2 separate regions of the Homo sapiens genome follow, and region 1 is linked to region 2. The links come from fine-mapping of genetic effects on gene expression. A gene starts in region 2. The other region holds a variant in brackets. All regions are shown on one strand. Distances are between the middles of the regions.

Region 1 (2,901 bases), 26 kb after region 2:
CTGCACTCTATCCTGGGCAGCAGTGAGACCCTGTCTGGAAAAAAAAAAAAAAATCAAACGAGTCAGCTGTGCTTAACAGCTGGGCAAAGGCAGCTGGCAGCTATTCGTGCCACTTCCTTGGGGCTTTCATTTCAGGGTTAACGGGCACTTGTTTCCATGAAGGCTGGTATTCTCTTGGCCTCGCTGTGCTGACCTTTTTTTCTCATGCCTAATCACACTTTCCATTCCTCAGTCCCTTAGTGGTCTTTGAAGGGTTTGTCTGTTTTCACTTCACTTTGAAGGGTTTGTAATTGTTTTCAGTTTCTGTCTTTGCTTCTTCATGGTGCTTTTCCTCCTTCCTCACTTTAATCCATGTGTGTTTCTGATAGCCACGTCTGTCATTTTGAGGGTGCATGTTCCCTCTTCACTGCTTGCTGGTTGTTGGTAGCTTCCCTTTCAATTTCTTCTCAGCCAAGGATTGCCTAGGACTGTTGGTTATTTTCAAGTAGGTTGGGTGCGTGGTTTGTTTTTGTTGTTTGGCAGGGGCCAGGGCAGGGAATCATTTTATTATTTTTTATTTCTCTTTGGCTTAACCAGCCTGTGAAACTGCTGACAGATCAGTTGCCACCTTCTCTTTTTTTTTTTTTTTTTTTTTTTTGAGATGGAGTTTCACTCTTGTCACCCAGGCCGGAGTGCAATGGCGGGATCTCGGCTCACTGCAACCTCTGCCTCCTGGGTTCAAGCGGTTCTCCTGGGATTACAGACGCCCACCACCACACCAGGATAATTTTTTGTACTTTAGTAGAGACAGGGTTTCACCATGTTGGCCAGGCTGGTCTCCAACTCCTGACCTCAGGTGATCCACCCACCTCAGCCTCCCAAAGTGCCGAGATTACAGGCATGAGCCACCACACTCGGCCTTCTTTTCTTATTTCTAGTAGTATTTTGTGCTTTCTTGGACAACTGTTGCCAAAGGTTTGCCTATTTTACCGTATTCAAAGATCATTAGACTTTAATTTGTTACAGCTTTGTTTTCCCTTTTGTGATTCTTGTAATTAAAGATTTTCCAGGAGGAGGCCAGGCGCGGTGGCTCATGCCTATAATCCCAGCACTTTGGGAGGCCGAGGCAGGCGGATCACGAGGTCAGGAGATCGAGACCATCCTCGCTAACACGGTGAAACCCCATCTCTACTAAAAATACAGAAAACTAGCCGGGCATGGTGGCAGGCGCCTGTAGTCCCAGCTACTCAGGAGGCTGAGGCAGGAGAATGGCGTGAACCCAGGAGGCAGAGCTTGCATTGAGCCGAGATCGCGCCACTGCACTCCAGCCCTCCAGCCTGGGTGACAGAGCGAGACTCCGTCTCCAAAAAAAAAAAAAGATTTTCTAGGAGGAGCTTGCCTCAGGATGGTTCTTTTACTTTCCTCTTATCTGAGTTTAATTCTGCTTCTAGTTTCCTTCACTGTGTTAGAAATCAGCAAGAGAGGGAACTGCTTGCAGGTCAGAGCTCAGGTCTGCACCGTTGCAGATGTCACATCTGCGGACACTTGTCTGGTGGCCTCGGGTGTGGTCAGACTTGGTGGGCTCAGGAGCGTGTCCCTGCGTGGCTGGGGGGTGCATGTTTGATGCAGTGGAGGTTAAGTCCTGTGTCTCACCAGCCGGGTTGTGGGCTGTGCCTGCCTGCACCACCCTGGGGAGTGCTCCGTGCCGCCAGCGCCGGGACCCACCCCATGTCTTCCATC[GTTTTC/G]TTTTCAGCCTCTCTGGCTCTGCCCTCTGAGGGCTTTTTGAAGGCTCACAGCTGGGGTCTGTCGTGTTCTCCTTCATCCTGACAGTCTTTTTTTTTTTTTTCTTTGAGACGGAGTCTCGCTCCGTCCCCCAGGCTGGAGTGCAGCGGCGCGATCTCGGCTCACTGCAAGCTCCGCCTCCCAGGTTCATGCCATTCTCCTGCCTCAGCCTCCCTAGTAGCTGGGACTACAGGCGCCCGCCACACGCCTGGCTAATTTTTTGTATTTTTAGTAGAGATGGGGTTTCACCGTGTTAGCGAGGATGGTCTCGATCTCCTGACCTTGTGATCCGCCCACCTTGGCCTCCCAAAGTGCTGGGATTACAGGCGTGAGCCACTGTGCCTGGCCAATCCTGACAATCTTAAATGTGGACTTAATTCTTCAGGTGGTCTGTTGCGTTCTATGATCTTGTTGCTTTCTAGTTACCATTTTTTATATTTATTTTCATTTGCTTCTCTTCTCTTTCTGCTGGTTTGGAAATTAGATGTTTTACTTCTGGTCTAAGGTTAAGAAGGACATCTATTTAAAGTCCAAAGTTGGCCAGGTGCAGTGGCTCACGCCTGTAATCCCAGCACTTTGGGAGGCCAAGGCAGGTGGATCACAAGGTCAAGAGATTGAGACCATCCTGGCTAACACAGTGAAACCCCGTCTCTACTAAAAATGCAAAAAAATTAGCTGGGCGTGATGGCGGGCGCCTGTAGTCCCAGCTACTCAGGAGGCTGAGGCAGGACTATGACATGAACCTGGGAGGCGGAGCTTGCAGTGAACCGACATCGCGCCACTGCACTCCAGCCTGGGGGACAGAGCAAGATTCCATCTCAAAAAAAAAAAAAAAAGTCCAAAGTTATGAGGTAGTCTCTGCCTTCCTCCCAGACCAGGCTGGCAGAAACTCTCTCCTCGTCTCATGGCAGTGCTGTTGGCTGTTTTAATTCCACCCCATTTCCTTTTTTCTTTTTCTTTTTTCTTGAGACAGACTCTGTCGCCCAGGCTGGAGTGCAGTGGTGTGATCTCAGCTTACTGCAACCTCTGCCTCCCAGGTTAAAGCGATTCTCCTGCCTTGGCCTCCTAAGTAGTTGGGACTACAGGCACACGCCACCACGCCCAGCTAATTTTTGTATTTTTAATAGGGACAGGGTTTTA
Region 2 (2,901 bases):
TTGAACCTGGGAGGCGGAGGTTGCAGTGAGCCAAGATCACACCATTGCACTCCAGCCTGGGCAACAAGAGCAAAACTCCATGTCAAAAAAAAAAAGAAAAAAAAAAAGAAAATTCTACTTTGACCAGACATGTTAATTTAATTTTTTTAGGCAGAGTCACTCTGTCACCCAGGCTGGGATGCAGTGGCCTAATCTTGGCTCACGGCAACCTCTGCCTCCCCAGTTCAAGCTACTGTCTCGGCCTCCCAAGTAGCTGGAATTACAGGTGTGTGCCACCACACCAGGCTAATTTTTTGTATTTTTAGTAGAGATGGGGTTTTGCCATGTTGGCCAGGTTAGTCTTGAACTCCTGACCTCAAGTGATCCGCCTGCCTCAGCCTCTCAAAGTGCTGGGATTGGCCGGGCGTGGTGGCTCACGCCTGTAATCCCGGAACTTTGGAAGGCCAAGGCAGGCGAATCAGGAGGTCAGGAGATCGAGACCATCCTGGCTAACATGGTGAAACCCCGTCTCTACTAAACACACACACACACACACACACACACACACACACAAAGTGCTGGGATTACAGGCGTGAGCCACCACGCCCATCCAGACATGTTACATTTCAGATCAGTGGTTACCCAAGTGGAGATCAGGAACCTGGAGTGCTGGTGACTTAGTACTGGGAGTCATGGGATACAAATGGCATTTAAAATTAGGAGCCTAGGCAAGATTACCCTGGGCCTGAGTGTAGCTAGGGGCCCAAGGTACTGATCTGACCCAAGGGAAGGGTCTGGCAGAAGAGACGGAAGGGATCAGGTAGGGCTTTGGACCTCTAGGCTTGATGGCCACCTGCTGCTGGGCCTCCGAGGGGCCTGGAGGCGGTGGGGACCGAATATGCAGAGAGAATGAGAAGTGAGCGAGTAGAACGAGAGTGGTACATGGCTTTGAAGGCATCTGCCACGGAGGCGGGAAGGGATGGGGTGGAGGCTCATGAGACTTGAAGCTCTAGGAGGACGTTGAAAAAGACCTGAGCGCTGGCCGGGCGCGAAGCCTCAGGCCTGTAATCCCAGCACTTTGGGAGGCCAAGGCGGGAGGACTGCTTGAGCTCAAGAGCTCCAGACCAGCCTGGGCAACATTGTAAGAGCCTGTCTCTACAAAAAATTAACAAATTAGCCGGGTGTGGTGGTGCGTGCCCGTAGCTACTCGGGAGGCTGAGGTGGGAGAATCGCTTGAGCCTGGGAGGTCGAGGCAGTAGTGAGCTGTGATTGTGCCACTGCACTCCAACCTGGGCGACAGAGCGAGACCCTGTCTCGAAAATAAATAAATAAGACCTGAGAACCCAGTATGGGAATGGCCCTGAGCCGTGGCTAGGGGGGTAGACAAGGCGGTCCAGACAGACCCCTCAAGAAGATGGGGCTTCGAGGCTGAGGGAGCTCGGCCCCGAAAAGACGCCTGCGGGAGATGGCACACCTAGCTAGGACCCCATACTGGGCAGGCGATCCTTCCGAGCATGAGCACCTGGCGCTAGCGAACCACAATTCCCAGCACGCCAGGCGCCCGTTTCCGGGGCGCGCCGCGGAACCCGGAAGTGGTCACGGAACTCGGCTGCGGCTCCATGGTCTGAGTTGTCAGCCGTTGTTTTTTCGTGCTCGCTAGTCGCCGCCGCCGCTCCGCCATGGGGAAGCGACAGCACCAAAAGGACAAAATGTAAGTTGAGCCGCAGTCGGGAGCGGCGCTCCACTCTGCCTCAGTGAACCGCCTGTCCCGCACTGCGCGCCGCTCGCCTTCCCTCTCAGCTACTCCCCAGAGCACAGCCCAAAGGTCACTTCCTCCCGGAAGCTGCCGCCCTGTCTCCAGTCAGGGTAATGACCCTCGGGCCGCCGCGCTCTCCCGGGGCCGCGGCTCCGATGACGTCAGCTGCGGGCTCGAGCGCAGCCCGGTTTTCCTTACTCTGGTTCTGCCCGGACCGTCCCCCGTCTGTTCGCGAGTTTCGCCCTTGAATGAGTAGTCTCTACCTCTTCCGTACTTCACGTCTCGCTGTGTTCTGGTTCATGCCTATCAGCCTGCAAACGTGCTGCAGAGCCTTCTAATTTAAAGCAAACCAGGTCGGGCGCAGTGGCTCACCTGTAATCACAGCACTTTGGGAGGCCGAGGCGGGCGGATCACCTGAGGTCAGGAGTTCAAGACCAGCCTGGCTAATACGGTGAAACCCCGTCTCTACTAAAAATACAAAAATTAGCGGGGCGTGGTGACGGGCGCCTGTAATCCTAGCTATTTGGGAGGCTGAGGCAGGGGAATCGCTTGAACCCGGGAGGCGGAGGTTGCGGTGAGCCGAGATCGTGTCACTGCACTCCAGCCTGGGCGACAGAGCGAGACGCTGTCTCAAAAATAATAAATAAAATTTAAAAATCCACCCGTGCCCCGTGCCCCACGTCCCACGTTCCCCTCCCGCTGCCGCCGTGTTGTTTCTCTTAAGAACAAGTGAGAGACTAGTGGCTTCATGCTGTTTTCTGAGTCTCTTGAAACCACTCAAGTCAGAATTTCGACCCCAGAACTGTTGGGCTTCTCAACAGTATGTCACACCGTTGACCACTCCCTCTTTCTGAAGCCCTCCTTTGGTATCTGGGATTTCACCTGCTCTTTGTTTTCTCTCGACTTCAGCGGCCTCTCTTTTCAGGTTCCCAGCGACTTCTTGTTGCTAAATATAGTATTCAATCCTCAGTCCTCATTTTTTTTTTTTTTTTTTTTTGAGACGCAGTTTCGCTCTTGTTGCCCAAGCTAGAGTGCAATGGTGAGATCTTGGCTCACCGCAACCTCCGCTTCCCGGCTTCAAGAGATTTTCCTGCCTCAGCCTCCCGAGTAGCTGGGATTACAGGCATACGCCACCATGCCCAGCTAATTTTGTATTTTTAGTAGAG

What was found. PIP is the estimated chance that this variant, and not a neighbour inherited with it, causes the effect. A credible set is the group of variants that fine-mapping cannot tell apart.
Region 1: its variant is the best candidate, but not a certain one, in a credible set for the expression of PPIL2 in nasal epithelium (TOPMed, PIP 0.90).

Annotation. Positions count from the first base shown.
Region 1 is chr22:21,690,345-21,693,245 of GRCh38, forward strand. All of the region lies in intron 15 of PPIL2 (peptidylprolyl isomerase like 2), which reads left to right. Among named protein-coding and RNA genes, the nearest start is that of PPIL2, 26 kb to the left of the region's middle. RefSeq lists an enhancer at 1-74. The variant GTTTTC/G (reference allele first, on the strand shown) is at 1,720.
Region 2 is chr22:21,664,442-21,667,342 of GRCh38, forward strand. It overlaps PPIL2 (peptidylprolyl isomerase like 2), which reads left to right and starts at 1,571. Exons shown (of 20, transcript NM_014337.4): 1 at 1,571-1,690. The coding sequence starts at 1,659. RefSeq lists enhancers at 1,503-2,413, 1,648-1,887, 1,958-2,007.